Linked DNA regions of Homo sapiens. The protein of the gene in region 2 purifies or fractionates together with the protein of the main gene of each other region. This does not show direct contact. Each region holds a gene or a part of one and is shown on either strand. Other genes may lie near its edges.

Region 1 (3,652 bases), on a different chromosome or scaffold from region 2:
CAGAGACGCCAGGAGGATGGAGGTGGGGAGCAGATCCATAGAGACACCAGGATGGAGGTGGGGAGCAGATCCAGACACACCAGGAGGATGGAGGTGGGGAGCAGATCCACAGAGACACCAGGAGGATGGAGGTGGGGAGCAGATCCAGAGACACCAGGAGAATGGAGGTCGGGGGCAGATCCACAGAGACACCAGGAGGATGGAGGTGGGGGGCAGATCCACAGAGACACCAGGAGGATGGAGGTGGGGAGCAGATCCACAGAGACACCAGGAGGATGGAGGTGGGAAGCAGATCCAGAGACACCAGGAGGATGGAGGTGGGAGGGAACCGGGAGTTGTTTCGTTTCAAGGAGACAGAGTTTCTGTTTGGGAAGGTGAGACAGTTCTGGAGATGGATGGTGGTGATGGCAACACAACAGTGTGAATGTACTTGGTGCCACAGAACTGTGCACTCAGAAAATGGTAAAAATGTGCATTTTGTTCTGTGTATTTTACTGTCATTTAAATAGGTCAGAACAGTAACGTGCCTTCAGGAACTTTTTACGTCTAAACACTGACAAAGCTTCCGACGTCCTCCCCTTTGAGAAGTGGAAGGCGGGCTGTCCAAGTCAGTGTGTGTCGGAGGCAGATACAGCCCTCTGTGTTTCCCATGTGTGGAGAATTCGGTTATTAGGAAACTTTACTTTATTCTTCACATGATGCACTTCATTTTGGTTTGTTAGTTTTCTGAGACAGAGTCTCGCTCTGTCCCCCAGGCTGGAGTGCAATGGCGCGATCTCGGCGCACTGCAACCTCTGCCTCCCGGGTTCAAGTAGTTCTATGCCTCAACCTCCTGAGTAGCTGGGATTACAGGCACCCACCACCATGCATGGCTAATTTTTGTATTTTTAGTAGAGATGGGGTTTCACCATCTTGGCCACGCTGATCGTGAACTCCTGACCTCATGATCTGCTCGCCTCAGCATCCCAGAGTGCTGGGGTGACAGGCGTGAGCCGCCGCACCCTGACTCCCAGAATGCTGGGGTGACAGGCAGGAGCTGCTGCGCCCGGCCTCCCAGAGTGCTGGGGTGACAGGTGTGAGCCGCCATGCCCGGCCTGATGCACTTCACTTCTACTGAAGAAAGAGGAGAAGCCTCAGCAGCTACTACACACCCTCAATTCTGTTTCTCTGTGAGTTCTACTGGCCAGACAAGCTGTCCCGGGGAGGCCTGTGATAGCCTATGCACTGGAAACCTGCTCAAGTATCATGTTTTATCTCAGAGCTCACACAAATTTGGAATTAAATGTGTGTTTATTTTCAAGACAGCAGCCATAAAAGAAAAATCTGATCACTGAACTTTATTAAAATGAAGAATGATATTTTTCATAAAATACCATTACTAGGCCGGGCATGGTGGCTCACACCTGTAATCCCAGTACTTTGGGAGGCCAAGGCAGGCAGATCACTTGAGGTCAGGAGTTTGAGACCAGCCTGGCCAACATGGTGAAACCCCATCTCTACTAAAAATACAAAAAATTAGCTGGGAGTGGGGTGGGCACCTGTAATCCCAGCTACTGGAGAGGCTGAGGCAGGAGAATTGCTTGAACCTGGGAGGCGGAGGTTGCAGTGAGCCAAGATCATGCCAATGCACTCCAGCCTGGCTGACAGAGTGAGACCCTGTCTCAAAACAAACAAACAAACAAACAAACAAAAAACCATTACAAGTAAAAAGGCAATCTACAGATTGGGAGAAGATATCACAATAAATACACCTAACAGAGGACTTATATCCATAATACAGAAAGGACTCCTGCAAGTCCTGAAGAGAACACCATTAAAAATGGAAAGGAAAGCCAGGTGTGGTGGCTACACCTGCAGTCCCAGCTACGAGGCAGGAGGATCACTTGGGCCCAGGAGTTTGAGACCAGCCTGGGCAATAGTGAGACCCCATCTTTATGGGGGAAAAAAAAAACAACGGATAGAGACTTGAACAAGCACTGCCCCAAAAGAGTGGTGAGATGGTAACAGGGACACGAGAAGGTGCCCAGCGTCACACCTCGCTGTGGAGATGCAGAGGAAGACACAATGAGATGTCATCAGCCCCAGCACAATGGCTAAGTTAAAGAACCGGCACTGCCCAGTATTGGTGAAGATGAGGGATATCCAGGGCCCTTGTCCTCTGCTGCAGGATGTGTGACTTGGGGCAACCAACCATTTAGGACAACTGCTCAGCAGTGTCTCCTAAAGCTGAACACACGCTCATCCTGCGAGCTAAACCCTCAGCTCCTTGGCACGCACCTAAGAAAAACAAGCGCATTCGCCAATAGATAGGCAAGGAGGCTCCTGGGGCCTGACGGATCCCAGCCCCACACTGAAAGCAGTCCCAAAGTCCACGGCTGGGAGAAAGGATCTGTGAGCCGGCAGCAGGCACACACCACAGTGACAAAGCAGCGGCTGCCGTCTGGTCCCTTGCGGGTGGGTCTGACAGGTAGTGGCCAGAGGCGACCTCTGGGGGCCGGGCTGTGTCCCCATGCTGACCTGGGTGGGCTATTATCCTATTATCTGAAGGCACAAATACACAGACACCCATCATGCCGTGTGCACTGTAGACACTCGGCTGTTTGTATCAGGAGGCTATTTGCATGTGTGGTGAATTAAGAGGATGGCGCTCTGGGAAGCGTGCCTCCTGCCCAAACCCTCCCGGCCGCCAGGCGCACCGTGGGCAGGCTGTACTACCTTCTTAGGTTCCTTCGTTTCTTTCTTGGCTGCCTGTCCGGGTCTCTTTGTTTCGGGAGCGGGTGAGAGAGACAGAGGTGGCTGCGTGGGACCCGAGTCGGCACGATCCCACCCTGGGGGGGCCTCCGAGTCTGGCACCGTCCTCGAGGGGGTCTGTCGCAAGGAAATGCAGAACAGGCTCTCCTGGGGCTCCTCACAGGAACCGAAAGAGAGAGGGGGATGCAATTCCCCAGGCGTGTTTCCTAAATACATCACTGAGAGGCCGGATGACTCTGGTGACCAGAGGGAGGCAGGAAGGGGGCTGGGGAGAGCAGCCCCCTGACTGGGCCTCCCAGAGCCTCTACCTGGCCTGACTAGAGAAGAGCCAGCCGCACTTAATAAGCAGCTCCGTCTGGGAGCACTCAGCACTCAGAATGCAAATGAGGGCGTTCGATGGAGATTCCGGGCTGGAAGAAACGGAGTGTGAGCATGCACTGAGGGAAGACTGGCCAGAGGGGGGCGATGGGTGTTCTCAAAGATACAATGATTTTTAAAAATATTTATTCCTGGGTCAAGTCCCAATTTTTAATAGCTCAACCCTCATTTTTACTTTTCCAGGGACACAGTATTTTAAAGGGTAAAACACCTAATGCAAGTTCAAACTATAGCAATCGCCTACTGATGGGATGCCCGTGAAGGGCTGGGTATCTGTAAAGAAGGTTCCAGAATGCGGTCTGTATAAAAGCAACCATCCCTCCTGGTTAGGAGTAGAGCAAACAGAGGAGGTATTTATACCAAACATGTCTAATGAGATAAATCTCACTTTCAGGAAAACCAGTGACAATGTTAGAAATTCTACTGAATTCCAGGACATCCTCTTGTGAGATCAAAAAATTAGAAAAGAAATTCTACTGTAGAAAAAGAGACGGCCGGGCTGGGCGGGGTGGCTCATGCCTGT
Region 2 (3,652 bases):
GGGGTGCGGTGGCTCACGCCTGTAATCCCAGCACTTTGGGAAGCCGAGGCGGGCGGATCGCCTGAGGTCAGGAGTTTGAGACCAGCCTGGCCAACATAGTGAAACCCCATCTCTACTAAAAATACAAAAAAAAAATTAGCTGGGAGTGGTGGCGGGCACCTGTAATCCCAGCTACTCAGGAGGCTGAGGCAGGAGAATTGCTTGAACCCGGGAGGCAGAGGTTGCAGTGAGCTGAGATTGCACCATTACACTTCAGCCTGGCCAACAAGAGCAAAACTCCACCTCAAAAATAAAATAAAATAAAATAAAATAAAATAAAATAAAGATTACCTGGGAGAAATATTTTTGGAGGGTTTTTCCTTATTACAGATTTGATAACTTTAAAATTCTCTGGCCGGGCGCGGTGGCTCACGCCTGTAATCCCAGCACTTTGGGAGGCTGAGGCAGGCAGATCACGAGGTCAGGAGATCGAGACCATCCTGGCTAACACAGTGAAACCCTGTCTCTACTAAAAATACAAAAAAATTAGCCAGGCACGGTGGTGGGCGCCTGTAGTCCCAGCTACTCGGGAGGCTGAGGCAGGAGAATGGCGTGAACCCGGGAGGCGGAGCTTGTAGTGAGCCGAGATTGCGCCACTGCACTCCAGCCTGGGCGACAGAGCGAGACTCCGTCTCAAAACAAAAAAAAAAATTTTCTGTGGCTCCTTACTGTCTACAGTATAAGGTCCAAAACCCTTCAAGCTACCTGTTGCAAACATCCCATCCACATCCAGAAATACGCACAATCCCCCTACTCTATACTAAACTATATCATGCTCTTGGATTTGTCTGGTTCCTATCTCTAAAATGCCCTTCTGTCCTTTTTCCCTCCTTGCCTGAGTCACTGCCATCCTCTGCAAAGACTTCCACAATCTCTATTCCTTGCCCTCCCCTACCACACCCCCTCTCCACCACATAGTTACTTTTTCTTTTGTGCTTACAAACTTTTCCTCTGTGTATCTATTACACTTATCACATTGTTTTGTAATTATTTATCTGTCTCCTCCATTAAAACTCAGCAGGTTTTTTTTTTACTCTCAAGAGTGTTTTGCACAGTAGTTAGCACAAAATAAATATTCGGTAGTACATAAAATGAATGTACCTATGTTCTAAGTCCTCATCTACCTCATCTACAAAAAAAAAAAAAAAAAATGGAGATTAGAAAAATAAAGGAAGTGATAAGAAAAGTGTTCCTTAAAGAAATTTGGAGTTTATAATTATAATAACACTGAAACACCATTTTAAAAAAATCAGCCAGGTGTGGTAGTTCACACCTATAATCCCAGCTATTCCTGAGGCTGAGGCAGGAGGGCCACTTGAGCCCAGGAGGCAGGGGCTGCAGTGAACGTGACGGTGTCACTGTGTCACTGCACTCCATCCTGGCTGACAGAGCAAGACCCTGTTTCAAAAAAGAAAAAAATAAGAAAAGAAAGTTAAACACCAAAAACAACAACAAAACACCAACATTAGCAGCAGCTAACATTTAAGACTTTTTTTTTTTTTTTTTTTTTTTGGGATGGAGTTTTGCTTGTTGCCCAGGCTGGAGAGTGCAATGGCACAATCTCGGCTCACTGCAATCTCAGCCTCCCAGGTTCAAGCAGTTCCCCTGCCTCAGCTTCCCTAATAGCTGGGATTACAGGTGCCCGCCACCACGCCCAGCTAATTTTTTCTATTTTTAGTAGAGACGGGGTTTCACTATGTTGGCCAGGCTGGTCTCAAACTCCTGACCTCAGGTGATCCACCCACCTCAGCCTCCCAAAGTGCTGGGATTACAGGCATGAGCCACCGCGCCTGGCTGAGACTTTTATACATATTAGTTATCTAGTTCTCAACTTTATAAGGAGGCTAGTATTATTACAACTATTTTACTGAGACACAGAGAAGTAACTTCTCCAAAACTACACAGATAGTAAATGAAACAGGATACAAACCCAGGTAGTCTGGCATCAGAGTTCATGTTCTTAACTACTAAATTACATTATTTCTTTAGCTCAAGCAAAAGGCCACTGGAATTAGAGAAGAAAATTGAGTACTAGCCCTGGTTCTTTTCATTTCTTAACGTCTTCTTTATTCTTAGTTCTAGTCCTGGTTCTTTAATATCTTAATCTCTTCTTTATTCCTAACATGCTAAAAAAAAAAAAAAAAAAAAAAAAAACTACTCAAAAAGAAAATCATTCCATTAGCTGTCACTTTTTAAAATTCACTTCAATAAATTAGCAATACTTTCATCAAACTTAGATGGGCAACTAATCTGGGAAGCCTTCCCAACATCTAAAACCAGGGCCCTCTTGCTGGGTGTTCTTGGGGCATCCTGAGTTTGTCCTTCCTAGAACTCATTCAAGAGTATAGTTGTATGAATCTCTGAACAATTCCTCTCTCTTCCACTGGACGCTAAACTCCACAAAAAATTCATGACTACTTTACCCATCATTGTCTGCACAGCACACAGTTGGCCCACAAAAGATGTCTCAAAAAAAAAAAAAAAAACACTAATCACAGTTTTTTTGTTTTGTTTTGTTTTGTTTTTAACACAGGGTCTCACTCTGTTGCTGGAGTGCAGTGGCACGATCTTGGCTCACTGCAACCTCTGCCTCCCAGGTTCAAGCAATTCTCCCACCTCAGTCTCCCAAGTAGTTGGGACTACAGGCGTGCACCACGATGCCCGGCTAATTTTTGTATTTTTTGGTAGTGACGGGGTTTCACCACATTGACCAAGCTGGTCTCGAACTCCTGATCTCAGTGATCTGCACGCCTCGGCTTCCCAAAGTGATGGAATTACAGGCATGAGCCACTAAGCCAGCCCACAGTAAGTTATAATACTTAAGAAAGAAATGGCAACAAGGTTTACAAGCTGCCTAAGGTACTAAACGTTGATTAAATTTCTAACCATCAAGTACTTTAAATTCATGTTTTTCTTTGAAGGACTATTAAGTAAAATATTCAATACATACATATTGGAGCTACTTCACTTTGGTTTTGTTTTGAGGTTTTTTTGTTTTTGTTTTCCAGCTTCTTTCAAGCCTCAGAGAAACACCTTAGTAAGCTAATGAAAAAGGAGGAGCAGGAGGAGGGACAAAAGCAGGAGAACCAGAAACCAAATTTCCGTAAAGTATCCTGAGACTTATTGATGATGTTCAAACACTTTGAGTTCTAATTGATGGTAAGCAGTTTGTCTGTTTCTTCTTTTAAAAAATGCTATTTAAAGGAAACTATTCAGAAGAAAATAAGAATAGTTAAAATGAAAAGTTCATCTAAAAACAAAATGCTAAAGGAATGCCACATAATTTTTTTTTTTTTTTTAGACGGAGTTCCGGTCTTGTTGCTCAGGCTGGAGTGCAATGGAGCAATCTCAGCTCACTGCAATCTCCACCTCCCGGGTTCAAGTGATTCTCCTACCTCAGCCTCCTGAGTCGCTGGGATTATAGGCATGCACCACCACTCCCGGCTAATTTTGTATTTTTAGTAGAGTCAGGGTTTCTCCATGTTGGTCAGGCTGGTCTCGAACTCCCGACCTCAGGTGATCCGCCCGTCTCGGCCTCCCAAAGTGCTGGGATTACAGGAATGAGCCACTGCACCCAGCCAAGGAATGCCACATAATTTCAAAGCACAGAGTC
Region 3 (3,652 bases), on a different chromosome or scaffold from region 2:
GAGGTTGCAGTAAGCAATGATCACGCCATTGCACTCCAGCCTGGACAACAAGAGCAAAACTCCATCTCAAAAAAAAATTATATATATATATTAAAAAAAGTAAGTATATATTATATATATTTATATATTATATATTATATATATAATACATATATCTGATATCAGCACAAATTCATCACTAAAGATCAGATCCTTCATGTTTAGACAGGCTGAAGCCAAGAGCTGCTTGGGGCAAATAATCCTGGTCCTTCCATTGTCCAATTAACCAAGCTCCTCCCCCTCTGAGCTGACAACAGTCTTCAAACTAGAATACCTAAATATAAGGAGCTACAGACCCTTGCTTTAAGGGATCCTCTGCCACACACCTAACAGTTGCTCAACCAGGGATGAGTACTTATGCGACTGACTACCAACTATACTAGACGCCATAGGGCACGTATCATCATGTGGCTCTTCTGGATAATAGTGATTACAAGTATGGTTTCAGAGTCACATAAATATGAGTATCATTGAGTTATATGGATTTAGAACTTTCCCTGCCCTCTCTTAAATCGCATTTTATTAATTTGGTCTTAAAATACAAATATGGGGCCAGGCACAGTGGCTCACGCCTGTAATCCCAGCACTTTGGGAGGCCAAGGCGGGAGGATCACGAGGTCAGGAGATCGAGACCATCGTGAAACCCCGTCTCTACTAAAAAAATACAAAAAATTAGCTGGGCGCGGTGGCGGGCGCCTGTAGTCCCAGCTACTCGGGAGGCTGAGGCAGGAGAATGGCATGAACCCAGAAGGAGGAGATTGCAGTGAGCCGAGATCATGCCACTGCACTCCAGCCTGGGCGACAGAGCGAGACTCCGTCTCAAAAAAAAAAAAGCCTTCATGTATTCCCCCTTTAGCTGATGAATTAGCATCTTATATGCCTTACTTTTTCCTGTTCAGTTATTTTATTTACACATTTATAACTCCTTCACTGATTTCCAAAGCCCCACCATGCACTGTACTGTATCAAGATTCAACATTACTCTTTATTCGTTCCTTATTCCACCTATGCACTTTTTGATTGTTCACAAGTCAAAATATTGATAATCATTCACACATGCATATATTCAGGCAGTCATTTACATATTGTTTGGTTTGTATACCCCACCTTATTCCCAAAAGGATTTCAGGTAGCCTACAATGAAAACATGGAACATAAATTAATGGCAAAATAGAAATAAAGAGACGACAAGGAAAGTAAGAAAGACAAGTAGATAAAGAATAGGAAAAGACAGAAGGACACACAGGGCAGACCATTAAAGGTTACATAAGGCCAGGGTGGGGGTGGCTCACACCTGTAATCCCAGCACTCTGGGAGGCCGAAGCAGGTGGATCACAAGGTCAGGAGTTCAAGACCAGCCTGGCCAAAACGGTGAAACCCCATCTCTACTAAAAATACAAAAAAATTAGCCGGACGTGGTGGCAGGCGCCTGTAACCCCAGCTATTCAGGAGACTGAGACAGAGAATTGCTTGAACCTGGGAGGTGGAGGTGGCAGTGAGCTGAGATCGTGCCACTGCACTCCAGTCTGGGTGACAGAGCGAGACTCCATCTCAAAAAATTTTAAAAAAAAAGTTACATAAAGGCATCATTTGGGCATCCATCTTGACTCTGTGCTTCCTGGAAGCCAAAATGCAAACAAAAACAAAAGTACAGAGAAGGTTTTTGGACCATTTGAGGAAAGCTCAGTAAGAGTTTTATGGCCTGTGAAAGTCTGTGTTCTAGCGGTGACTTAACGAAACAATTCTAGCTGGGTGCTGTGGCTCACACCTGTAATCCCAACACTTCGGGAGGTCGAGGTGGGAGGACTGCTTGAGCCCAGGAGTTCAAAATCAGTGTGGGTGACGTGGCGAGACCTGTCTCTACTAAAAATAAAAATAAAAATTAGCCCAGTGTGGTGGGCACGTGCCTGGAGTCGCAGCTACTCAGGAGGCTGAGGCAGGAGGATCGCTTGAACCCAGGAAGTCGAGGGTACAGTGAGCCGAGATTGCACCACTGCACTCAAGCCTGGAAACACAAAGAGATCCTCTCTCAAAAAAATAATAATAATTCTAAGACTACAAAATACCTTTTACATGATAACAACTTTTAAAAAGCCTCCAGGCATCAGGGGGGCAGGTAAGCTCAGGTTTTTCAAATTTACATAAAAATCATTGATAACTGAGAATGTGTTTTTAGCTACCAATTCCTTACCATTTCATCAGCCAAAATGCCATTGACTCCATTTTCATATAAAGAGATCAACCAATTCAGTCCTCGAATCTGATAATCTCTCAGTGGCCCCCCTTTCACATCTGGTGAAAAAATGCAAGGACATTTCATACTTTCATTAACATACTCAAGTAAAATTTTTCTAAAACTAAATTGAAAAAGAACTCACCAATGTGATGAAGTACTTACATGAAGGTGACACCTCAAATCTAATACACACATTAGATGTTTTCCGACTCTCAGACAGTAGCTCTTCATCTTCTTCTTGCTCTGTGCGCCTATGGCGGTAGCTGAAATTAAAAAAGGAAATCCCTTCATATTCGACCTAAATGATAAGGTATCAATTAAATCAGTGTACATGGCTATTATCTTTTATAGAAAAAGAATGAGTTGTCCAAGGTCTTGCTTAGAAATCAGTAGAACCAGCCTACATTTTTACTGATCAGCCTCTAGTGAGAAAAAAATATAGTTGTCTTCAAAACATAATTATAATGGCAATATTTTTTGTCACATGAAGGTATACTGAACAATGAAGAGCGAAGGGGTGCATGAAGGGATCAAGGGAGGACAGGAGGAAGAAAAGGTAGGAGAAAGGAAAGAAAGTAGAGAGAGAGGTGCCAACATACTCTCCAGCAGAAATTAAGCTCTGCTTTTCATCTTTCTTTATTCGGGGACGTCCCAATTTCATGTTCAGTGGAGATGTTGGAGATTTCTGTGCTGAAGGCTGAATGAAATGTGCAAAAAGTTCTGTCTGCTTCAGTAAAAATTCAAATCTCTTTGCTCGGTCGGCTTTCTAATTTGCAAAACAAAAGAAAAGTAAGGACTTTCCTTTTCATTCCTTCAAAGTTATTTAACAAATACTTACTTTGAACAACATTCTTAGCACTTGAAACATTAATCCATTCAATTCTCTTAAGAAACCTATGACGTAATTACAAGTATCATCTCCATTGTAACTACATGATACTGAAGCACAGAGAGGGTAAGTAATTTGCCCAACCTTGCACAGCTAATAAGCAGCAGAATTTGAAAATGTATTTTCAAATAGTTTGAAGGGAAGAAAAATTATCTGACAGACAGTAAATTCCCCAATAAGAAATACCCTTCTTAAAGAGTCATAATCATAAAGCAAATCCTCTTTCCAAAACATCATTTTATTAAATAAAATAGTAACAAAATTAAGCATCAAATATATAACATATCCCAAATATTGAAATATAAATTAACTATGATATATATACCATAAACTGAACTCTTAAGAATTTCCAAGTTGTATCCAGAAATAACTTAAATCTTAAAATACAGTATCATCTTGTCTCAAAATATTTTCAGTGTCATGGTATAGTAATGTAATAAACACTCCTCTCTTCACTCACAGGGATCTAGAAAACTGTATTTTGTGCT

Evidence for each region.
Region 1: the proteins of EEA1 (region 2) and SEC16A purify together in Homo sapiens (affinity purification with mass spectrometry; one large-scale study listed by BioGRID and IntAct). This does not show direct contact.
Region 3: the proteins of EEA1 (region 2) and SMARCA1 purify together in Homo sapiens (affinity purification with mass spectrometry; one large-scale study listed by BioGRID and IntAct). This does not show direct contact.

Annotation. Positions count from the first base shown.
Region 1 is NC_000009.12:136,448,541-136,452,192, forward strand, and holds part of SEC16A (protein transport protein Sec16A), read right to left. Parts: intron 2,869-3,652; coding exon 2,716-2,868; intron 1-2,715. UniProt on the Homo sapiens protein: Acts as a molecular scaffold that plays a key role in the organization of the endoplasmic reticulum exit sites (ERES), also known as transitional endoplasmic reticulum (tER).
Region 2 is NC_000012.12:92,922,674-92,926,325, forward strand, and holds part of EEA1 (early endosome antigen 1), read right to left. Parts: intron 1-3,652. UniProt on the Homo sapiens protein: Binds phospholipid vesicles containing phosphatidylinositol 3-phosphate and participates in endosomal trafficking.
Region 3 is NC_000023.11:129,513,457-129,517,108, forward strand, and holds part of SMARCA1 (SWI/SNF-related matrix-associated actin-dependent regulator of chromatin subfamily A member 1), read right to left. Parts: intron 3,042-3,652; coding exon 2,875-3,041; intron 2,539-2,874; coding exon 2,438-2,538; intron 2,332-2,437; coding exon 2,231-2,331; intron 1-2,230.